7 linked regions of the Homo sapiens genome follow. The protein of the gene in region 2 purifies or fractionates together with the protein of the main gene of each other region. This does not show direct contact. Each region holds a gene or a part of one and is shown on either strand. Other genes may lie near its edges.

Evidence for each region.
Region 1: the proteins of ARPC1A (region 2) and ARPC3 purify together in Homo sapiens (affinity purification with mass spectrometry; 10 studies listed by BioGRID and IntAct, with this or other methods). This does not show direct contact.
Region 3: the proteins of ARPC1A (region 2) and NCAPD2 purify together in Homo sapiens (affinity purification with mass spectrometry; 3 studies listed by BioGRID and IntAct, with this or other methods). This does not show direct contact.
Region 4: the proteins of ARPC1A (region 2) and HACD3 purify together in Homo sapiens (co-immunoprecipitation; one large-scale study listed by IntAct). This does not show direct contact.
Region 5: the proteins of ARPC1A (region 2) and NFASC fractionate together in Homo sapiens (co-fractionation; one large-scale study listed by BioGRID). This does not show direct contact.
Region 6: the proteins of ARPC1A (region 2) and NCAPH purify together in Homo sapiens (affinity purification with mass spectrometry; 3 studies listed by BioGRID and IntAct, with this or other methods). This does not show direct contact.
Region 7: the proteins of ARPC1A (region 2) and AGFG1 fractionate together in Homo sapiens (co-fractionation; one large-scale study listed by BioGRID). This does not show direct contact.

Annotation. Positions count from the first base shown.
Region 1 is NC_000012.12:110,440,338-110,443,837, forward strand, and holds part of ARPC3 (actin-related protein 2/3 complex subunit 3), read right to left. Parts: intron 52-3,500; coding exon 1-51. UniProt on the Homo sapiens protein: Component of the Arp2/3 complex, a multiprotein complex that mediates actin polymerization upon stimulation by nucleation-promoting factor (NPF).
Region 2 is NC_000007.14:99,356,898-99,360,397, reverse strand, and holds part of ARPC1A (actin-related protein 2/3 complex subunit 1A), read right to left. Parts: intron 2,059-3,500; coding exon 1,983-2,058; intron 854-1,982; coding exon 660-853; intron 1-659. UniProt on the Homo sapiens protein: Probably functions as a component of the Arp2/3 complex which is involved in regulation of actin polymerization and together with an activating nucleation-promoting factor (NPF) mediates the formation of branched actin networks.
Region 3 is NC_000012.12:6,525,102-6,528,601, reverse strand, and holds part of NCAPD2 (condensin complex subunit 1), read right to left. Parts: intron 3,020-3,500; coding exon 2,886-3,019; intron 2,535-2,885; coding exon 2,402-2,534; intron 2,316-2,401; coding exon 2,231-2,315; intron 2,155-2,230; coding exon 1,987-2,154; intron 1,712-1,986; coding exon 1,539-1,711; intron 826-1,538; coding exon 714-825; intron 635-713; coding exon 511-634; intron 430-510; coding exon 274-429; intron 1-273. UniProt on the Homo sapiens protein: Regulatory subunit of the condensin complex, a complex required for conversion of interphase chromatin into mitotic-like condense chromosomes.
Region 4 is NC_000015.10:65,568,463-65,571,962, reverse strand, and holds part of HACD3 (very-long-chain (3R)-3-hydroxyacyl-CoA dehydratase 3), read right to left. Parts: intron 1,873-3,500; coding exon 1,760-1,872; intron 991-1,759; exon of another isoform or gene 890-990; intron 416-889; coding exon 309-415; intron 1-308. UniProt on the Homo sapiens protein: Catalyzes the third of the four reactions of the long-chain fatty acids elongation cycle. This endoplasmic reticulum-bound enzymatic process, allows the addition of two carbons to the chain of long- and very long-chain fatty acids/VLCFAs per cycle.
Region 5 is NC_000001.11:204,978,652-204,982,151, reverse strand, and holds part of NFASC (neurofascin isoform 1 precursor), read right to left. Parts: intron 3,185-3,500; coding exon 3,083-3,184; intron 2,791-3,082; coding exon 2,593-2,790; intron 1,783-2,592; coding exon 1,712-1,782; intron 355-1,711; coding exon 132-354; intron 1-131. UniProt on the Homo sapiens protein: Cell adhesion, ankyrin-binding protein which may be involved in neurite extension, axonal guidance, synaptogenesis, myelination and neuron-glial cell interactions.
Region 6 is NC_000002.12:96,363,266-96,366,765, reverse strand, and holds part of NCAPH (condensin complex subunit 2), read right to left. Parts: intron 2,286-3,500; coding exon 2,175-2,285; intron 891-2,174; coding exon 708-890; intron 1-707. UniProt on the Homo sapiens protein: Regulatory subunit of the condensin complex, a complex required for conversion of interphase chromatin into mitotic-like condense chromosomes.
Region 7 is NC_000002.12:227,559,156-227,561,717, reverse strand, and holds the end of AGFG1 (arf-GAP domain and FG repeat-containing protein 1), read right to left. Parts: 3' UTR 501-2,562; downstream 1-500. UniProt on the Homo sapiens protein: Required for vesicle docking or fusion during acrosome biogenesis. May play a role in RNA trafficking or localization.

The sequences.
Region 1 (3,500 bases), on a different chromosome or scaffold from region 2:
CATTGGCCTTGAAGTAATAGATGGCTTCATCCACAATATCTGTATCTTTTGCTAAGCAGGACACAAGGGAAGGAGCACAGAGAACATTAGCCAAATACAAAACATAACAACTATCAAAGCCATAAAGGGAAAACACATACAACTGTCAACAGTTGTGGAGTTGAATAAAATAAAATGATCCTATTGAAATACAAAGTTTTTAGAAAATATTTATTTGTTTTTTTTTTGAGACAGAGTCTCGCTCTGTCACCCAGGCTGGAGTGCAGTGGCGTGATCTTGGCTCACTGCAAGCTCTGCCTCCCGGGTTCACGCCATTCTCCTGCCTCAGCCTCCTGAGTAGCTGGGGCTACAGGCACCTGCCACCACACCCCGCTAATTTTTTGTATTTTTAGTAGAGATGGGGTTTCACCATGTTAGCCAGGATGGTCTTGATCTCCTGACCGCGTGATCCGCCCATCTCGGCCTCCCAAAGTGCTGGGATTACAGGCATGAGCCACCGTGCCCAGCCTTTGTTTTTTTTTTTGAGACAGAGTTTCACTCTGTCGCCCAGGCTGGAGTGCAGTGGCGCGATCTTGGCTCACTGCAAGCTCCGCCTCCCGGGTTCACGGCATTCTCCTGCCTCAGCCTCCCAAGTAGCTGGGGCTATAGGCACCTGCCACCATGCTCAGCTATATTTTTTGTATTTTTAGTAAAGACGGGGTTTCACCGTGTTAGCCAGGATGGTCTTGATCTCCTGACCTCGTGATCCGCCCATCTCGGCCTCCCAACGTGCTGGGATCACAGGCATAAGCCACCGTGCCCGGCCAAATTTTTTTTTTTTGAGACGGAGTCTTGCTCCGTCGCCCAGACTGGAGTGAAATGGCATGATCTCGGCTCACTCTGCCTCCCGGGTTCAAGCGATTCTCCTGCCTCAGCCTCCCAAGTAGCTGGGATTATACGCATGTACCACCAGGCCTGGCTAATTTTTGTATTTTTAGTAGAAATGGGGTTTCACCTTGTTGGTCAGGCTGGTCTCGAACTCCTGACCTCGTGATCTGCCTGCCTCAGCCTCCCAAAGTGCTGGGATTACAGGAGTGAGCCACCACCCCCGGATTTTCAGAAAATATTTATAGAAAAGTAGTACATGGTTTATTTTTACAGCTTTATTGTTTTCGTAAAACTTATACATGCTCATTAGAAAATGAAATTCAATCAAAACAGTTTTATTTTTTAGAGAGAGGTCTTGCTCTGTTACCCGGGCTGGAGTGCAGTGGTACAATTATAACTCACCACAGACTTGAATTCCTGAGCGCAAGTGATCCTCCTGCTTCAGCTTCCCAGGTAGCCGGGACTACAGGCATGCACCATGAGGCCTGGCTAATTTTTTTCTTTAAAAATTAAATAAAATTTTTAAAGAAAAGTTTTTAAAGATGGCTGGGCACAGTGACTCACGCCTGTAATCCCAACACTTTGGGAGGCCGAGACGGGTGGATCACCTGAGGTCAGGAGTTTGAGAGCAGCCTGGCCAACATGGTGAAACTGCGCCTCTACTAAAAATACAAAAAATTAGCCAAGCATGGTGGCAGGCACCTGTAATCCCAGCTATTCGGGAGGCTAAGGCAGGAGAATCGCTTGAACTCGCGGGTGGAGGATGCAGTGAGCCAAGATTGCACCATTGCACTCCAGCCTGGGCAACGAGATCAAAACTCTGTCTCCAAAAAAAAAAAAAAAGTTTTTTTTAGAGATGCAGTCTCACTATGTTGCCTAGGCTGGTCTCAAACTCCTGGCCTCAAGTGATCCTCCTGCCTCCTGAGTAGCTAGGATTACAGGCATAAGCCACAGCACCAGGCAAAAAAAAAATTTTTAATTGTCACCTTAATTCCCATTTCCCCAAAAATAACTACCATTAGCATTTGGTGAACATTATTCAAGACGTCTCTCAATGCATTTATAAAAAAACACTGAGACATAGACTAACTTTAACTGCTTCCTAAAAATAAAAAGTATTCAGTCGGGCGCAGTGGCTCACGCCTGTAGTCCCAGCACTTTGGGAGGCTGAGGCGGATGGATTGCCTGAGGTCAGGAGTTCGAGACCAGCCTGGCCAACATGGAGAAACCCTGTCTCTACTAAAAATACAAAAACTAGCCGGGCATGGTGGTACGTGCCTGTAATCCCAGCTACTCAGGGGGCTGAGGCAGGAGAATTGCTTGAACCCAGGAGGCAGAGGTTGCAGTGAGCTGAGATCATTCCACCAAACTCAAGCCTGGGTGACAGAGCGAGACTCCATCTCAAAAAAGTAATAATAAAAAATATATATAATTAAATAAAATAAAAAGTATTCAATATAATTTTATTTGAATTTACATATTATAGTTTCAGAAAAAAACTCAATTATTTAGAACATGTTGAGGTTCAGATACACATCTTTCTTTTTATGAAAACTATGACTTAAAATATACTTGTACAAGCTGTTGTAGGTAGCTCTAGACGGACAAAAGCCAGAAATACTGTCTTGACAAAGACAGATCTCATGACACAATTTGTTTGGCAATTTTTTGTTTTTCTTCTTCTTATTTTAAAAAGGTCAAAATCCCAGGGTCTTGATATCTGGCAGTTGGTTTCAGCAGTGCTGAGACAGTTACTTATACTTCTTGTCTATGACTGTTAACGTTCTCGCACAGCAGAAATGCAAAGTAATCTTGAAGCTTTCATACTCTGCAATTCAGTTGTCTTCATCCCAGCTCATTGCCCTGTGGAAGAATTTCAACAGAACTCTAACTCTAGACTTGTGTTCCTTGCAATTTACTTTTTTTTTTTTTGAGATGGAGTCTCGCTCTGTTGCCCAGGCTGGAGTGCAGTGGTGCAATCTTGGCTCACTGCAAGCTCTGCCTCCTGGGTTCACGCCATTCTCCTGCCTCAGCCTCCCGAGTACCTGGGACTACAGGAGCCCGCCACCACGCTTGGCTAATTTTTTGTATTTTTAGTAGAGATGGGGTTTCACCGTGTTAGCCAGGATGGTCTCGATCTCCTGACCTCGTGATCCACCCGTCTTGGCCTCCCAAAGTGCTAAAGTACTGGGATTACAGGCGTGAGCCACCGCGCCACGCCCTATTTTTTATTTATTTATTTTTTCGAGATCAAGTCTCACTTTGTCGCCCAGGCTGGAGTGCCATGGCACAATCTAGGCCCAGTGCAACCTCCGCCTCCTGAGTTCAAGTGATTCTCCTGTCTCAGCCTCCCATGTAGCTGGGACTACAGGTGCCTGCCACCACAGCTAGCTAATTTTGGTATTTTTGGTAGAGACAGAGTTTCACCATGTTGGCCAGGCTGGTCTCAAACTCCTGACCTGAGGCAATCTGCCCGCCTCAGCCTCCCAAAGTGCTGGGATTACAGGCGTGAGCCACTATGCCTGGCTGCAATCTGTTTTCTTATCTGTGAAAGAAAACTGTCTTGGAGGACTCAATATTGTTTCCAAAAACCAGCTAGTTCTTCTAAATGCAATGACAGGAGGGGGCAAAGG
Region 2 (3,500 bases):
GCCGAGATTGTGGCATTGCACTCCAGCCTGGGCAACAGAGTGAGACTCTGTCTCAAAAAAAAAAAAAAAAATTAAACTTTCTGGACAAAACACAATTCTGTTGTCTTACATAATTACATATACCTGATGAAAACCCAGTCGAGACACTCCTCAGCTTTGTCATCATGATGATAAGAAATTCTGTTCCTTTAATTAAATAATCTTCTTATTTGTATCCATTACTTGAAACGACAGCTACAGTTACCTTTTCCAACAGGCTGTAACTTCGCTTTCTGTTATGTGTGCACTACTGTGGGAACGCAGCATTCAGGAATGTCTCCTTTTGTTCTCGAGTAGCTGAGAAAGGGTACCCTAGGAAGCAGCTGCCCTGAGGCCCCACCACCTCAGATTGCAACAAGGTCTGCACTGCTCCTGCTGGCTGCTGCCTTGTAATCTGCACCTTGAAGGACAGAATGACCAGGTGGTGGCGACTCCCTCCCTACCACGAGCTGGAAATGAGAGCCTGGCGGTCGGGAAGATACAGACTTCTTGCTGCACTTGTCCCTGAAAGAATGTCTGGGCCTGAGGGGCATAGAGCTTTTGTAGGAACCCAGTAAGGAAACAGCGAGGGGCAGGAAGGCACCTTGTCACCTGACCACCTCTCTACAGACGGCACCTACGTGATGCTATTCTGGTGCAGCGTCTCCAAGGCCGTGTTGCGGTCCTCAGTTGTGGCTCTCTTGTCCATGTTGCGGAAGCGTTCCATGGCAGACATGTTGCGTTGGATGCTCTGTTTTGGAATATCTAACTTGGAGACGAAGGTCAGGCAGCCGCGGTCATCGTAGTTAAAGAGCATTGGGCAGCAGTCATGGCCCTGAAACAAGACTCAGTCAGTCCCTGGAGGATGCACTGCCCACCGCCCACCTCCTTGGCAGAGTGTTCACCACGACAGGCCTCTCTTACTCTTTTTTTTTTTTTTTTTTGAGACCGAGTCTTGCTCTGTTGCCCTGGCTAGAGTGCAGTGGCACAATCTCAGGTCACCACAACCTCTGCTTCCCGGGTTCAAGTAATTCTCCTGCCTCAGCCTCCCAAGTAGCTGGGATTACAGGCGTCTGCCACCATGCCTGGCTAATTTTTGTGTTTTTAGTAGAGACGGGGTTTCACCATGTTGGCCAGGCTGGTCTTGAACTCCTGACCTCAAGTGAACCACCCGCCTTGGCCTCCCAAAGTGCTGGGACTACAGGCGTGAGCCATCGTGCCCCACCCCCTCTTACTCTTAAAAGTGAGCGGCCGGGCACGGTGGCTCACACCTGTAATCCCAGCACTTTAGGAGGCCAAGGTGGGCGGATCACGAGGTCAGGAGATTGAGACCATCCTGGCTAACATGGTGAAACCCCATCTCTACTAAAAATAAAAAAAATTAGCCCGGCGAGGTGGCGGGCGCCTGTAGTCCCAGCTACTCAGGACGCTGAGGCAGGAGAATGGCGTGAACCCGGGAGGCGGAGCTTGCAGTGAGCCAAAATTGCGCCACTGCCCTCCAGCCTGGGCGACAGAGCAAGACAGTCTCCAAAAAAAAAGTGACCTCTGAGGCCGGGCACGGTGGCTCATGCCCGCACTTTGGGAGGCCAAGGTGGGTGGATCACCTGAGGATGGGAGTTCGAGACCGGCCTGACCAACATGGAGAAACCCCGTCTCTTCTAAAAATACAAAATTAGCCAGGTATGGTGGCGCATGCCTATATTCCCAGTTCCTCGAGAGGCTGAGGCGGGAGAATCGCTTGAACCCGGGAGGCAGAGGTTGCGGTGAGTCAAGATCACCCATTGCACTCCAGCCTGGGCAACAAGAGCAAAACTCCATCTCAAAAAAAAAAAAAAAAAAAAAAGTGAGCTCTGTTTCTTCTAAAAAACTGTTCTGCTTTGTGCTAGGGTGACAGAGCACACATTGTTCCCTGTCTGAGCATCACATACAGTGCACCCCGAGGGAGAATGAAGAAAAATACTCACAGCAGCCACGACGCTGTTCTCTGAGACAAATGACACACTTAGGAGCGGCAGGAACTCTGTCTTCAGAGTCGAGACCCTGAACACAAGAACATGTGTTATCCCAAGATGCAACAGACTATTAGCTTCTTTACAGACACAGATGATCACAAAGGACCCATTCTCACAGGGGCTTCTGCAGTATCAATGGGCACTTATGTTGAAAAGGAGCCCCTGACCTCAACTTGCAGGCCTCTCAAGACAGGGGCAGCCCTGGGTTCCGGCTCTGCCTCCTTCTGAGGCCCTGCCCACTGACGACAAACTGGTTCCCAAAGCCCAGTCTTTGCATCACGCCCTTCCACCCCCAGCACAGCTCTAAAGGGATCACCCCCATGATCCCACGGTCCACTTTCCCGGGCCACTTCCGCCTAAAGTGGCTTCTCCCTGCTCTTAGCTCCTAGAGCTCTTCCTGTTACTATGACTTGGCAGCAGACACCTGTGCTAGGACCTTCTCCTTGCCTGTGCTCACCGGAGCTCCGAGAGGGCTGTGACCACACAGATCTGTGCTGACGGCCAGGCACTGTGTTAGGAGCTAGAGCTACCAAGATGAACCAAACGGTCTTAGCCAGGAGCTCACACTCGAATGGGCCATGTGTGTGTATGTGTGCCTGCAGGGACATGTGTGTGCATGTAGTTATTTGCTCTTGAATGTGGCAAAGAGATTACACAGATATGGCAGGCAGACACACTGGCTGATGAGTTAGGAGCACCTCACTTCATGCAAGAAACGATGCATTCAAAAGCTGACTGTGGCTGGGCATGGTGGCTCACACCTGTAATCTCAGCACTTTGAGGGGCTGAGGTGGAAGGATTGCTGGAGGCAGGAGTTTGAGATCAGCCTGGACAACATAGTGAGACCCAGTCTCTACGAAAAATTAAAAAAAAAAAAAAATTAGCCTAGAGTGGTGGTGCACGTCTGTGGCTCCAGCTGCTTGAGAGGCTGAGGTGGGAGGAGAACTTGAGCTCAGGAGTTCCAGCCTGGGCGACAGAGAGTGTCTCTCTAAATTAAAAAATAAAAAAAAGCTAACTGTATATGTCTCAGGACACCCTTCATAAAGTTGGCATTGAATTGAAGAACTAATGTGTCATCTTAAGCCCTTAGTGCGGTATACCTGACTTTTACTACATGAGATATTTATGTTGGAGGAGTGGAAAGGTGGAGCATGTAATCTGACTTGCAGGACTGGAAAAGGGAAAGAAGTCAGTACGAGGGTAGACAGGGACTTGTAATAAGTGTATGCTAAGAACTTACTGTGTCACAATAAACCATATAAAAATCAAGTAACACTGGCATCAAAATACAAAAGTATTATCAAGTATTAAAAGGCAAATTACCAAATGTATATAAAAATGTATAAAATAATCTTATTTCTGTTAAAAATGAAAAGATATATAAGTGCCTGTTTATGTAGGGAAATCTTCTGAAAGACTACATTTTATAATGGAAGGGACAATCTTTCTTTTTTTCTTTCTTTTTTTTGA
Region 3 (3,500 bases), on a different chromosome or scaffold from region 2:
GGAATCAATTATCCCATGCTCTGCCACTCCAGAAGCAGTCAGAAAGCTGTCTAGAGTTGAAAGCTGGAGTGGGGGAAAGAGGTGAAGCTTCTAACCAGAAGTGTCAGTCCCACTGGGGTGACTCTTAGCCAGGGGCCTGTACAGGTCAAGTATCAAGCAGATGTTCGCGGTGATGCCAAAGCCTAGGGGAAGAGCCCTGGTGATTCTCACACTGACTCTCAACAGACTCCGGGGCTCCTGGGAACTGCCACCACGTTGTGAGGGGTCTCTTACCGAGCATACAGATGAGGAGTCCAGGGGTCCACCAGATTGGGAAAGCGGATGGCCAGATCCCCAGTGGCAACCATGAGGTTAGACCGGACAATGGGAAGTGGAGACTTTTCCAGCATGGTGAACAGAAGACGAAGCTGGGAGTCGCAGAAAGTGGCACTAAGAGCAAGAAGAGGATCATTAGGGAAGCCATTTCATCCCCATCTTCCTTGAGAAGGGGGTACCAACCCCACGGCCTACCTGATCATGCAGAACTTGCCAAGGGCAAGTGAAGCAGCTGCAGAGAGGTCTGGGTTGCTATAGAGGCCTGGGTTGTTACAGACTTTAAGCAAGAGTGGAACAAAGGCAGCCAGTGTCTGTTTGCCTGTTGGAAGAGTAACTGCAGGTTTGGGACAGGTTATCTTAATTGGGAAGAAACTGCTGAGTGCAGCCATTTTTCTTACCATCCAACAGTTCCATCTCGCAGATGCCACGGATTAGTTCTGCCTCTGTGTCATCTGCTGTTGCCCCAACCAGCCCCAGCTCCTCCTCCATGGTGGTCTCAGAGCTCGTATTCTAAAGGGAATGAAATTGGGGATCATGGATAAGCAGAGACAACATTTTTGATTCCAGCCCATACTTTGTTTTGCATGAACAAAGTGAGGAAGGGCAAATTCTACAAAAACATTTAGAGAATTGTCAAATGTGTCTGTAAAGAGAAAGGATTCCTGAATTAAGCAGGGGAACAATGAGGTCCCCATTTGTTTTAAGTTGCCAAAGCGTGTTTCTGCACCTCTTCCTCATGGAAGACATCGTTTCCTATATATGGTAAACAGATGGATCACGCCAGACAATGGTTCAAAGTCACAGAGGTCAGACTTTTCTCCAGCGCTGCAAGGCTCTGTGTCTTATTTGTCTGCAAGACATCATTGCCTCTAGTGGAGGGAACACAGGGCCCCATCCGGGGCCAGGCCAGCAATGGAAGCTGATGGAAAAGGCCGGCGGGTACGTGCGTGTTCTAACAAACCCTGCCTCAGACACAAAGCCTCTGTTTTATGCTGAGGTCTCTAACTCCACACTCTGCATTTACCTAAATCTTTCCTTCCTGGGTGATCACTGACAGTTTCGTCATTGTTCACACGAACCTTTCCTACGGTAGTAGCCACAGAGAGGCAGAAACTCTTCGCTTCATGTAATAGCAGAGGAGCAGAGATTGCCGGAAGGGGATCAGCTCAGTTCTGAGCTGAGGTATGAAATAAATCTGGGAAGTGCTGAGGACATTCACACACCTTCTCCTTGGGATCTTTGGTCTTGTGCTCCTGTTCTTCCCGGAGAACTCGGCGCCGGCAGAGCTCTCCACTCACTGCCTGCTCCAAGTGGACCAGCTGCTGCAGAGCCACATCCCCAGCCAGGGACAGCAGGTTCATCAACAGGAAAGTGGGGAGCATTGCGGGGGACTCCTCTGGAGGAGAGGGAGAGGGAAGGTGGGGCAAAGAGACATTTTTAAGTCCCATCAAACCTGAATCCGATTTTTACTGATCTTCCCCTTGCTCACGTGCTATTCAAACTAGTGAAGTAGTAAGAGTTGGGGGTGGGAACTGGCCCAACTTCAACTTAGACAAAAACGACACAGTGTACACTAAGGGTTGTTGCAGATAGTGGTGGTGGCAGTGGCTCCTGGCCCTGCAGGGAGAACAGAAGCTGGCTGCCGCAGTGGGTCAACCCCTGCCCACTTACTCGGGTCCTCCTGACTGGTTCTCTTCTCTTCTAGCTTCTCCAGGGCCTGTTTTGCACAGCCCTGCAATATCTGGGCACAGATCACTTCGGGGCCCTCTGCCAGTTGGTAAATGAGGGTCACTGCCACCTCTTTGAATGGGATCCAGAGTGGGTCTGGGTGGACAAAGCCTGCAGAGGAGGAGGGAGAAGTTGTTTACTGCAACAAAGGGCCCAATTCTGCCCAAGGCCTTCCCTGAGAGCTCACCTTTTGTGACTGTCTCCCGCAGTCGCTCAAACAACCTGTGTTCCTGAGGCAGCCGGAAGGGGGGGTGACGTTTGCCCAGAGAAGGCTGTGGAGAGCAAGACAACGTGGGTGTGTGTACAGGGTGGACACGAGAATCTCCACTCTCCTTAGTTTGGAACCACCCCCACATACCTTTCTCCTGTCCGAGATGTTGGCAATGGCATGGCACACCTGCTGGGCCAGCCTGTAGTCCTGTGGAAACTTCTCATCCAGCCCTATGCTCACCAGTGTGTCTAAATTGCTTCCCACAATTTCTGGCTTTCCTCTAGGGGAAGGAAGCCACAGAGTTAAAGGCAGTCATGGATTGGACTCATCGGGGGAGAAAGGGCCAATAGGGGTAGGTACCAGCACCTCATGTGGTGTCTAGAGCCGTGGAGCACTATAGCGTGGCTCTGCCGCAGGGCCAGCCTCTTGGGTCCTGTTGCTTTACTGAATCCCACTACTACTAGGCAGGAGGGCTGGTCCTCTCACTATTTGCTTTTCCATTTAGGTGGCGTTATAACTCACAGCAGAGCTCAGTTGGGCCTCACTGTGACAATGTCACTGAAGGAAAAGGAGCCCTCTCAGAACCTTCCTTTGCTCTCCCACCCCATTGCCTGCTAGATTTGAGCCTCACCGTGCCATCATGCCAAGAAGCATGACAGAGGAACAGCGCTCCAGAGGACAGCAGGCGACCTTCTCGGTGGCCCGCTCCCACAGCAGCTGGGTCACTGCTGGTTTCAACTCATCCTTCTGCACAAACTCACAGAGCTAAAGAGAAAAGAAAAAGGGCTCAAGCCAAAAATGAACAATTCCTTGATCTTTGGTCTGCTTTTCTGAAGATGATATTGCGAACCTGAAGTAGACAAAAGTAATACTTAGGAAGAGAAAAAGAAAAGAGGAGGTTCAAAATGTACAGCAGGGTCTTGAGAGGCTTTCCATTCTCTACTTTTCTACTCTCATGCCTTCAAAACTATTTTATTCAAGTGACATATCGAAACTGACCTTTTGAGTTCCACGTGGGTCCATAGTTCTAAGTCTGGAGATTTCTAACAGGTTTTCTTGCCGTTACCACAAACTCAACATGTCCAACATGGAAGCCATCATCCTTCCTTGCCTTTTCATTTTGCCAGTGGTATCAACACTCTATCAGTAATATGTGCTTAAAATTTCGGTCATCTAATTTTTTTACAAATCAGTCACTATTTTTCCTTTAAAAATTTGTCTTCCATTAAGCCCATTCTGCAGTGAT
Region 4 (3,500 bases), on a different chromosome or scaffold from region 2:
TGTATGAGATGTTTGTCAGAATAAAATAAAGTCATCAGTAAGAACCCCCTTTGGAATACTAAAAGCATCATACAAATGGGAAGCATGCAGGACATAACCACCTGGCTTTCCAATGTTACAAAATGAGCTACTTTTCTCGAACAGTCTGGGTACCAGGAGTATTATGGAAGGAAGCCCATGGAAAGAAATCCCTGAAAAATCCAACATTTCCATTTATCGGACTAAGGCCGGGGAAGAAAGGACTGGTCTCTCAGCCTCTGGGTACCCCCTGGAGCTAAGCTATGAAAGCTAAGAGTCCCTGAGAGTACCTTCCGCCAAACATCCCAGTGGATATAAGGGAATCCACAGAGTGTAACGAAGCCATGTGAGCACCTTCCAATCCATGTCAATGCACGTCAGCATGTAGAAAGAGTACCTATTGAAAATAAATGATTCCAATGTGAAAAGCCACTTCAGGTTCCGAATGCAACCTTAGAATATCATTTAAATAGAAGAATTCTATTTCTCAGCCACACATGGCTTCTTCAGAACAGAATTATAACGCTGGCTATCAACCCATAAACTCCTGCCACACTGCGCCCTAAATTTTCAAAGGATCTGAACGCTCTTTAATGGCAGACTAAGTTTAGGTCTCAAAGGAACCCTCTTTATTCGGTAAACGGACTGGATACTCAGATGTTTTTTGGCTTTATTCCTAGTGCTGATATACATTCCCGGTGGGTAAGGATATTAGATACTTTATTTCTGGATAAGTGAGTTGTTACCAAAATTAAAGTATACAGAAGACCTCTAATCTAGAATCAGACATATGCTATTTTAAAAGACATCCCTTGAGAAAATAAATGTTCCTTCTCAAACAGTAAACATTGCATTAAGGACCCATAATCTGATCCTTTTATAGCTCATAAGTGTGATAACTGGATTTTCACTCTCCTGTGTGAGATGTGCTTCCCTCAAACCTTGTTACATCAGCACATTACGTGTCTGATTTGAAAAACATAGGACCTATAATCTGTTTTACCTTTGTATTAAGGCTATTAGAGGGTACACTGGGTGCCATGGGACACAGACCATGGTTAAGACACAATTTAAGGCTGCTATGGCCTGTTCTCTCTCTCAACTAGCAACTTTGTCAAAATACCACCAAACCTGGAGCTGAGAAGTTCATTTGCAAAATCCTTGCTCCAGCTGACTGAAAGGGAAGACATATGGAGTGTGTATGGTCTGGTAAAGAAGAATACATCTACTTTAACTAGATCCATTTCTTAAAAGATATTTATGCTACTAACAACCGAGAACGGGAAAATTGGGTTAGAGGCCATTTCAAACTTCAATAATCTTGTGGTATAAGATTCATTTCTATCATCCCTTGTAGAAATTTAGTCTTAAATTAGTTCTATCCAACCTGGATTGCTCCTTCAACCTCCTGTTTCTTCAGCCCTTTCAAGAATTTTTCCATGTGGATGGGTCCTCTCTTTCCAAGACTGCAAGATCCTGAAGTCATGGTAAGATGAGTCTTCCCTTTCTCTGGTTCTCCTCTTCTGCTCCCTAGTATCCAGTCTGGTATTATGATCCAATGACGGCTTTAAAAAAATCTGTCTCAACTTTGCAGAGCACATAGGTGCAACCAGAATTCTCCACATATGTAATCTTAGTCCCAAACCAAATGAGACTCTGGCTAAGATAACAACTCCCTCAAGAACAGAGCTGCTGCAAACAGGGAGCAGCATTCAAACACCATCCTGGCATTTCTACCCACCTGAAAATTTCAATTGCACTCCACAAATAAAACACAAAGAAAACCACAGCTTTGTTCTGCATTTCTTCCATGGTGCCAAAGATGATAAACAAAATAAAATTTCTTCCAAGAAGCTATTAGAAAGACCCAAAAGAGAGAAAAAAGTTAATAAAATATATGTAAAGTTATAGAAATGTGTTATCTGAAATCTAACCCCACTAAATGCAAGGCAAATAGAAAAGATTGACCTCGACCAGTTTAATCCTGCTCCAGTTCTGGAACAAGTAAAGTGCCCAAACCAGTCTTTGTGACTAGACAGGTACAGTATTTTGTGTAACTATATCATAAATCATTTCTTTAAAATACAGACACATGTTCAAACGCAGTCTAAAGAATACTGCCAAATAAACATTTGAGTTTATATAACCCAAGTTAAGAAATAGAGCACTACAAACGTGGGACCCCTATAAATAACTACTATCATGTGTTAATAATTCCATGGCTTTTCTTTTTTATCGAGACGGGGTCTCGCTCCGTCACCCGGGCTGGAGTGCAGTGGTGCAATCATGGCTCACTGCAGCCTTGAACTTCTGGGCTCAAGCAATCCTCCCACTTCAGCCTCTCAAGTAGCTGGGATCACAGGTGTGTGTACTACCACACTGGCTAATTTTATTTTTTTGTAGAGACGGGGTCTCACTGTGTTGGCCAAGCTTGCTCAAACTCTTGGGCTCAAGTGATCCTCTTGCGTCAGCCTCCCAGAGTGCTGGGATTATAGGCATGAGCCACTGTGCCTGGCCCATGGCTTTTCTTTATGAATTACTGCTTGTGTATGTATTCCTGAACAGTATATTGTTTCATTTTGCCTGTTTTAAAACTTTCTGAAATCATTCTATATGTATCATTCTGTGACTACTTCTTACTCAGAGTTACGGGCCAGAGACTCATCTATGTTTTTTGGTCTTGTTTTTTTTTTTTTTGAGACAGAGTCTCGCTCTGTCGTCCAGGCTGGAGTGCAGTGGCACGATCTTGGCTCACTGCAAGCTCCGCCTCCCGGGTTCATGCCATTCTCCTGCCTCAGCCTCCCGAGTAGCTGGGACTACAGGCGCCCGCCACCACGCTCAGCTAATTTTTTCTATTTTTTAGTAGAGACGGGGTTTCACCATGTTAGCCAGGATGGTCTCGATCTCCTGACCTTGTGATCCACCCGCCTCGGCCTCCCAAAGTGCTGGGATTACAGGCATGAGCCACCGCGCCCGGCCAAGACTCATCTATGTTGATGCATGTGGCTATAGTCCACTCATTTTCACGTGGCAAGACATTCCAATATATGATAGACATTCTATTCTTCATAGATATCTGGGTTGTCTGTTTCTGGGTTTTATTCTGTTCCCGTGGTCTGTGTGACTATCTTTGTACCATACAACGTGGTATTAGCTACTAAATCTTTATACTGTCTTGATTTTTTATAGGGTAAGTCCCCAATTTGAGCTCGTCTTTAAAGAATATTCTCGACCTTTTGCTTTTTTCTTTTTCCCATTTTAAAAATTGTGGTAAAATACACATAATGGCTGGGTGCGGTGGCTCATGCCTGTAATCCCAGCACTTTGGGAGGCCGAGGCTGGCAGATCATTTGAGGTCAGGAGTTCAAGACCAGACTGGACAACATGGTGAAACCCCATCTCTATTAAAAATACAAAAATTAGCCAGGCGTGGTGGCAGATGCCTGTAGTCCCAGCTACTCGGGAGGCTGAGGTAGGAGAAT
Region 5 (3,500 bases), on a different chromosome or scaffold from region 2:
ACAGAACATTTTTCCTTCCTGGGAACTGGCTGTCCTCCCATACCCACCCCAAGGTTCCTGGCCTGTGAGCGTGGCCTCGTGCGACCTAGCCACAAGGGTCCTGATGGGGGGACGGGGAGGAGACTACTCACAATCTTCTCCGGAGTAACCGATGACGGACTCTGGCTCAGGGCCCTTCCCGAAGTCATTTTCAGCCTGGACTCGGATCTCATAGGGCACGTAGACTGGGGTCTGCCCCACCACGTAGCGAGAGCCCCACACTGTGACGTTGTTCCAGGCCTCTCGAGTCTCTCTCCGCCTCCACTTGACAATGTAGCGCAGGTTGGGGCCAAAGGCCGAGGTGGCATTCATGGGCTGGGCAGAGGGACAGACAGGCTGGAGAGGCTGCCAGAGAGGGGCCCAGATCCACCCACAGCTTGCCCTCTCTTGCTGTGCCAGGCATCCCTTCCAGATGTGCCCAACACTGGCCTGCCCCCTTGCAGGGTAGGGAAGACCATATCCCCCACCCCAGTGAGTCCCCCAAAAGCCCAAGGTCCTGTGAACCCAGCAGCATGCAGATTTTCTGTGACACAGGCTTCGCCTGAGACCCAGTTACTCTGACTCTGAGAGCCACCCGCATTTGTAGGTGCAAAGGTTTTATTTTCAACAAAACTCCTTCCTGTGACAGGAGCAACCAATAAAGCAAAATATAGACAAAAGGTAAACTTCTCCAAAGTCAGAAGAAATGAGTTGTGGTTAACCACAGCATGGCTCCTGCTAATGAACTCAAAATTCCAGAATGGACTTTAGTTCTACCGAATTTGTGTGTGTCTGTCCTGTCCTTCCCAAGAGGTCAGAGTTCTTTAAACATGGGTGTGATTCTGCTCTTTATTTTCTAAGGGCCTGGCCCAGGAATCAGTCCTCTTGGAGCCTGCTATACAGAGCCACAGACCAGGGTCCTGAATCTGGGCTCAGCCCAGCTGCCGTTGCCCTGTTTGGCCAAGGCTGCTGTGGGAGCAGCCTTCAGAAAGACAGGGAAGGTCATGATCCCAAACACTGCATCTCCCAGTTTCCATTACTCATGGCAGAAGCTCAGAAATGTTAATATTTCAGTGGCTGCGTTTGCATTCTCAGACTGGGAAGTGGTTTGGGAAAAAAGTCATTTTGAGACCACATACTCCAGTTTTGGTTTGGAAAATGTAGTCAGTGAGCCAGCATGAAGATGGGATTTTCTAAGACCAGAGGGAGTCTTTGGAATGACCTAGTCCATTCTTGGACCAAAAGAAAGCCTGTACTGGACACATCTCAGATGTTGGTCTCTCCCCAGCTCCCACAAATCTCCAGTGAAAGGGCCCTAGGACACACCAGAACTTGGTTTGGTGTTGTGCTTAGATCTTTTCTAAAGTCTAACCCCAGTCCCTCCTCCTTCAAGAGAAGTCTGCTTGATTTTGCTGCATCCTCTATGCGTTTTGCTAGACTGGCAGTCGGTGGACCCTGGTCCCCTCTGCTCCTGTCTCCTCTCTGAAATCTTACACTTAGACATTTGTCCTGTTTGGTTTCTGGATGCCCAACTCAGAGAGGAGCTTGGTTTCTCAAAGAAGAATGGCCACCAAGACCAGCCAGAGAGTCTGAACCACATCATGGCCTCGTAGTGTCGGGGCATCAAGGGAGAGGGGCTCCCGGTGCATGCGGCAAGGTGAGCTGCTCCACTGGGGCTGGGAGGGCCTCTTACCGTCCACGTGATCTCCATGTTGTTCTTTCTGGTCCCCTCTCCCTTCACGTCACCAGGATTGGACTCGGGGGCTGGAACCCAAACAGACACAGGCTCAAGTCCAATTTGTGCCTTTCCAGGGCAAGGTAAGGAACCTTCCTCTGTCCTACCTGATGGGTCTGTTCTATGCTCTGTCTTTCCTCGGCATCTATGTATACGCTTGGTCTGGTATGTAAATGAGCTTACTCTGTGCATGATGTGCCTTTTGAGCTGAGATTTAAACTCCCAGAGCAGGGCTAATTTCTTCTGAATTTTAATCCTTTACCAGACAGCATTTATCATAAGGCTTTCCACACTGTGGGTGGTCAGTAAGCCAACTCAATGTGGATTAGCTCCTTTGTGGATTATCCACTAAATGTGTTTCATACCAGACTGGCTTATCCCTGGCATTTAACATTTTTTTTGGGCAGCATCTCTACCCTCTATGAGCTGGTGTGATTTCAGAAATCCAAATATTACCCAAGAGTGTTAGGAAAAGAAATCTGATGTAATACCAATTTATATATTTCTCACACTGAATTATGTATTTCTGCTGTACCTCTTTGCCACAGCTCTCCCCTTTAAAGCAGATAATCAAGAATTACTAATAATAAAAATGGAAGTTAGCATTTATCATGTGCTCACTACATGCCAGGCATCATAGTAAGTACCTGGCACACATTCTCAAATGTTCACAACAGCTCTGTGATGTAGGTGTTATTATTACTCTCTGCCTCACAGATGAGGCCGGGCCTTGGAGAAGTTAAGTAACCTAAGTTCACATGGCTGGGAATGGGGGGATCTCAGTGTGAGTTTGGGGTGCGGGGTTCCGGAGCCTTCTCTGGCAGCCCTCGGGTACTCACGTGCTCCACTGGTTCGGTAGCGCTCGGATGGGAGGCTGGGGTGGCTGCTCCCAACCTCGTTGATGGCAATGACACGGAACTGGTAGTTGACATACGGGGACAGCCGGAGGACGGCTGAGTTAACGCTGCCGGGGTACTTGGAATGGTCATGCCAGACCCCAGGTTGGAACTGGTCTTCTTCAAACTGGACGACGTAGTCTGAGTGGGCAAGGAAAACAGAGCTGTTTCGGGAGCTCAGTTAGCAGTGGTCTTCTTTAAAAGCACTTCCTTCTTGGCTTCCATTGATCTTTATAATCTCTCTCACACAAAGGCACAAGGAGAATTCTTCCCAAGGCACAGGAAGAGACACCAAGGCCTCTGTACATTCTGAGGTTAGCCCAGGACACACATCAAGCGAGGCAGAAGTGGGGCTGGAAACCAGGAAAGGCCTTCGGTTTAAGGGTGTTGCCGTCCCTCTTTTCCAGCTTTGGGGTGCAAGGCCCTGAGCTACCTGTGATGGGGCTGTTGTTAGCATCCCCGGGGATCCAGGTCAGCCGCACGCTCCTCTCGGCCAGGTCGGTCAGCTCCAGGTCCCGGGGCCGGTCTGGCCGTCCTGGTGGCAGAAGACACCACGCAGGCCTCCTGAGTTAGAGCAGGTCCACCCTTGTGATGGCCCTAGCCCTGGACAGCTCCCTGACGGGCTGTCTTCGCTACCAGCTGGATCCAACCCCAGCCTGCCCTGAGGGGTGAGCACAGGGACCACTCCCTTCCCACAGGGGCCCAAGGGAAAACAAAGAGGAGACTCCTGAAATCCCAGCCCCCCCCCACAAAGAATATCAATGGGTGTGGAACAAGGAAATAAAGGGGCTTATGCAGACAGAACTGGGACCAACGCCATTCCGTCTTGGTGGATCTTCTGAGAGTGCAAG
Region 6 (3,500 bases), on a different chromosome or scaffold from region 2:
AGCTGGGATTACAGGCACCTGCCACCATGCCCAGCTAATTTTTGTATTTTTATTAAAGACGGGGTTTCACCATGTTGGCCGGGCTGGTCTCGAACTCCTGACATCGTGATCTGCCCGCCTTGGCCTCCCAAAGTGCTGGGATTACAGGCGTGAGCCACCACGCCCAGCCCAGAGCTCTCTTTGGACACTATATAGAGTCCCTCATATCAAATCTAATTTCTTTTCAATCCAGTGCAATCTACATTAAGGCTAACTGGAATTCCAGTGTAAAAGAGATAAATGAATCAAATATAAAGGCAAGCATAAAGCCTGCCACCTGGTATGGAAGAGATAAATGTTTAATACATGATAATTTAATACAAACTGAATTTGGCCAAGATTTTTCAGAGCCACACAGCTAGCTAGCTAGCCTTGCTGAATTAGCATATAAATTTATATTCTCTGCCTGCAGCCTTCATTCATATGCCTTATTTGGGTGACCAGTTCCTCCCTAGTTACATGTCTTATCAAGGTCTTTGGAGAGATGGTCAGTTCCACACAAACCTAATTAGCATCAGCTCACTCCCACAACCCTATTTAAAACTTGGAGAGCAACAGGTTAAAACTGAGAAGAAAAGAAATCAAGCTCAGATTGCGTGACTCTCATATAAGAGACAATTAAATAGATTTCAGGCAAACAATGTAATTCTCAGCTGTTTCATCCGTACCTTCTGAGGCTCAGCTACCAAGTTTGACTCCCCATATGTTGTGATGTCTAATCCTTGGGCTTCTGGAGTGTCACCATTCTGTTGTGCTGTCTTAGGTGGATGGCAAGGATAAGGTGAGAGGTCAGAGTTCCCAACAGGTCCCACAAATAAGTCATCCAAATCTTCATCATCACTGTCAGCAGCCTGGGCAAGAAACAGCTCTTCGAGTTTGGTGGACGCTGCAGAGGAGCTCAGAAACACCCTTGAAATAGACTCCATGTTTACAAAGCAAGAAGAGACCATCTGATGGTTCACTCAGTGAGTTACACTACGATGAACTTCTAGGTGCCTCTAGTTATCATCCTGTTTCACGTAAACCCTATTAGAGAGGTGTCTGTTATCAACCTAAGACCTTTTGAGCGGGAGTTAAAAGGAATTCGATAACCATAATTGCCACTATGTCCCCCCTTCAGCTTCTAACAAATTTAGGATTTCATTTTACAGAAACATTCCTCAAATACCGGAGATATGACCTGAACATATCACCCAAGGAAAGCACAGGAGATTCCTGGGGCCATCTGGTCAGTAGCAGGCATACCACCCAGAAGCAGGTGAGAAAGTCATTTTTGCGATCACATCCAGAGTGAATGTATCAGTATCTTCGGGCAGGGGGTGGGGTGGGGGGACACAGGTCAGGAATCAGTCCTTAAATAGGCTCCCTGGGTGATTTGTATGTAAGTTAAAGTTTGAGAAGCACTAGTCAAGAGGTCAGTCTGGATTTTCACTAAAATATAACAGCCTAACTCTCTTCCTAAGTAAGAAAATAAGGTGAATACATTTTTTTCCAGTTCGTTCCCCCCTTTCCACATACAGGGACACAGATGAAGCCTATTTTTCCAGTTTCTGTTACCTGTATTAGCCATCTCATCAGTAGACTCAGAGAAGGGATATGGAAATTATTTAGTCTAAACCGTGATCTAAAGATGGGGGGTGGCTTGTACAAGTTCACAGCAAGCTTGCAATATGAGAACTGCATTCACAGCTAGAAATCTGGTCATCTGAGATACACCCCGAAGACTTATTTTTTGCCACACCAGATCACATATGGTGTGATCTGGTTGTCTACCTGGCCAAAATATTAGCTCATAAGAGGACAAAGTGTTTATATTCCTTTGAAATCCCACAACAGCCAAGATTAGTACTTTGTAGCAGAGGCTAAACACCCATCCACATGTCGACGCATTCACTTGAGTGTGGCCATTTGCTTCCTGCATGTAGGATGTGAGGTAAGGCAGGCCAAGGTGAGGCTGTTTCCTTGACTCTGCTCAGCTCCCTGCACTGGGTGGAAGGCAGACCCTTTACCCAGAAAACCTCCACTGGATTCAAAATTGCCAACAGTCTCCCACCATATAAAATGGGGACATGAGAAGCAGAGAAAAACGACTCCCTGGCTTAGAAGAGAGGACAGAGCCCCTTTCCCCCCTTTACCTGTAATCCAGGGCAAAAGTTGGAGGTGTCGTTAGGGTTGTTGTAATCATAGTCTTCAATTTCTTCATAATGCTCAGTCTCTACCCTATGGCCCTGGGCCATCTTAAGTAACTAAAGGAAAGAATAAATGCAGAAAGCTATTTTGTTAAAAGCTACTGAACTAGGTTAGAGAAGTAAATCTTAATTCCTATGCCCAATCTCCTCCTAGAATTATACAATTTTAGAGTCAGAAGGGCCCTCACAAGTCATCTAAGTCTAACAGACTTTTCCACTATACAGTGCAAACCTGGAGTAGCAGGGCTCAGCATCTCTACCAATCCCAAATAAACCAGAGCAGCTCTATTTCTGTGTGACTGGCAATTAGGCCTTCTGCACAGTTTTACCTGAAAAAGGGTTCCTTCACTAAAAACAAAAGTTGGAAAATCTACCCTCCAGCTTTCTGAAAGTCACCTTGTTGCACTTGAACAATTTTGACAGAAAACCCATTACCAGCCAGGCACGGTGACTCACACCTGTAATCCCAGCATTTTGAGAGGCTGAGGTGGGAGAACTGCTTGAGCCTAGGAATTTTGAGACTAGCGTTGGGCAACACAGTGAGACCCCATCTCTACAAAAAAAGATGGCATGGTGCTGTGTGCCTGTGGTCTCAGCTACTCAGGAGGCTGAGGCAGGAGGATCATTTGAGCCCAGGGGTTGAGGCTGCACTGAGCCATACTCATACCACTGCACTCCAGCCTGAGACCCTGTCTTTAAAAAAAAAAAGGAAAACCCATTACCTTAATTAACAGCCTGTCTCATTCCTGAATGGAAACCACTGTTCCCTACATGGCAACAAGGAGAGACATCCAGCTCTTCCCTCTAATTACATCCATCATCCTCATTCTGTATTCCAGAGCCTCGTGGAATGAGGCTCCTCTTTTACGAGTGCCTATGGATCACAGTCTTTCAAATATTTGCAGGTCCTTCCTTAGACCAGTGATTTCTACTTGATATATAAATCTCTGAAGTAGGAGAAATGTGACTGGAGATGTGCACAGTTTACAAGAGCACACTGAATATTTTAATATAATTCTGTGCCTCAAAAACAACTCAAATAAACCCACAATGTGCTTGTAACAAATCCAAAACTACTACTAAACAATAAATACTTGAATTAAGAAACGCCCCATTTTCTTCCACTGTTCTTCATATGACACAACTTCTAACTGCATCTTCATTTAGAATACTCTCCTCTGGGCACACTCTCAGGTGTCCCTAGCCAAATGTCCAGTGTTTAATACAGGCACTTCCAGTCACACAAATTTAAAAGTTATGCTTATACTATGC
Region 7 (2,562 bases), on a different chromosome or scaffold from region 2:
GGAAACAAAATTTTCTTCTGTGTTCTGGTGATGGTTAGTGAAAATAATTTAAACAAGATGTACAGAATAATCAAGATGGACTCATAACAAATAATAGTCAGTGACCACTACAGAGAAATAAGATTAGGGATGTGACAAACACAGTTCAGCATTTACCTTCTAAACTTCAACAGTAGTAAGGTAGGTAAATTCCCATTACAATGCTTTCTTAAAACCAACTTCCATCAATGTGTACTCCAGAAAAAAAAAAATCCATCTTTGAAAAAAAAATATTGCAAATTAAGTAACAAATAGATCCTGCTTTTTAAAAATGAAGACTTTTTAATTGAAAAATACAGAAAAAAATGGCAAAACTTATTAATTAATGGAAAACACGTTAAGCTGGAAGTAAATGCATGAGCTGCTTTACAGAAATGCATAATGTGAGTGATGAAAGGAACAAATATTCTTCCAATTTTCCAGATTTGACACTCATTTAAATGAAAGAGGCTATTCCCAAATGGTACACAAATTCAGAAGTCTTTATTTTGAAAAAAATTCTTCCAACAGTATTTCACAATGAACAAGAACTTAACCAAATTTATCTATCATACTAAAGTATTTCAGAAATGAATATTGAAAACAGCCTGTAAGTTTTCATCCAATATTTAAAACCACCTCCTGAACTAAAATTGGTCTTCAAAAATCATGGCGTATTAACATTTTCCAAACATGCCCTGCTGACTAGAAGGTCCTGTTATTCTTTCTTTTGAACTTCCCAGTAAGTTTCCTTGTTCCCTATTCCTAGGATTTAAAGTGCAAAGGTACTTTTTATGAGCTATTAGGACAAGTATTCTTCATTGAAAATAAACTTTTGCAGAAAACAAATCCTGTGCTTGACTAACAGCAAAGACATGTTAAGAAATTTCTGAGCTCCAAACCATGAGGAATCAGAATCACAACTTTCAGAGTAATAACTCACATTTTTTCTAAAGCATAGGAAGCTAATTTTGTATAATGAACAAATGTGGTTGTGCCAAAATAGGTTTTGCCACAGTTAATTTCCACTTTCTCTTCTTAAAAATAAGGTATAGTCTAAGCTAATGTAGATAAGGAAAGGCACGATACCAACAAACTGCAAAACAAAGTATAGCCCCAAGCCATGCACTTTTTAGAGTCATGAGTAGGGACAATGAAAAAATTAAGGTGCAAAATAGATGTGAACTTCCACAATCTTTCAATGGACTGTCTTAACAGTTTAATTTAAAAGCATAGGCTTTTTCATATATCTTCAGATAGTCAGAGAGATTTTTTTTCTTCTTTAAATGGAAGAATTTCTTAAATGGAAGCACAAGATCATACCTACACAGCTGGTGAGCCTCAAAATAGAATAATGTCTACTTTATTAATAAAGTTTCCAGTCAGGCAGAATCAAGAGTAATCTTCATATATGCATAAGGATATTATCATTATAACAATATTTTTAGTAGAAAAGTCTATAAACAAATGTTCTCCCAAAGGGACATCCATATAATGGAATCCTGGAGACATTAATGTTAGAGCTGGAAGGTGGCAATATGGAAAGACAACCAAGTTAAACAAGAACCAAGTCACAAACTTGAACATTTAAAATAAGAACAGGAAGAGGCATACAGAGAGAGAGCCATATATAAAATAAACGATAACATTTCTTAAAGACTACACAAGAATACAAGAAATTATATGCCTCTGGGGTATGAGAATAAAGTCACAGAGGGAGACACACTTTTTGACTTTATGCCCTTTGTGTATACTGCATAATTTTTAGAAATCATAAGCATATATTATAGCATACAAAAAACCTTTAAAGTCTTTAAAAAACCTGATTGTAACCAAAGCATTCTATGAAACATTGACTATGTAAGATTAGTTTACAATCCCTTGCTGCCTTTAGTTAATGATCATATAGTCAAAATTAGAAGGCTCCTTGGCGTTTGCTTCCTCTGTCTCTCCACTCAAGAATGAGGGAAGATGCTGAGAATTTAGAATTCAAATTTTACTCTCATTGCTTAAATTGTAACTTGGATAACATCTCAAGATTTCAGAGAACCGATTAAAAAATTAATCTATGGGCATTTTAATCACCATCTAAAATATTTTATCTAGGATCACTTATCTTTTTTTATAAAAGCTCAAATCACAACATTCTCTTTTCATCAGTCCCTACAGCCCTGTGTTGGACAAGCACAGATGTCAAAAATACACTTAAATATACGTTGAATTTTTATCCACTAGAATAAAATAAGCAGAATGATATGCATTCTTGGCGATAGTCTTCACTGGAAAATACCACTGTCAGCCCAAACTTACACAACTGACTTCAAAATCAGACTAAGATGTGGCATAAGAAGAGCTATTTCCTACCTTCACTATATATTCAGGATTTGCCAACTCCAAGGCCTTGAAAAACATGTGAATGTTTGAGACTAAGAAAAATTGGGAATGGTAAGCTAGTGGCCACCTTAAGAGTACATGCCCCATTTCAAAAAGATGGATTCAGAATGCAACGTTTTAAAACACTGTGCTGGTCACACAAAACAGAAC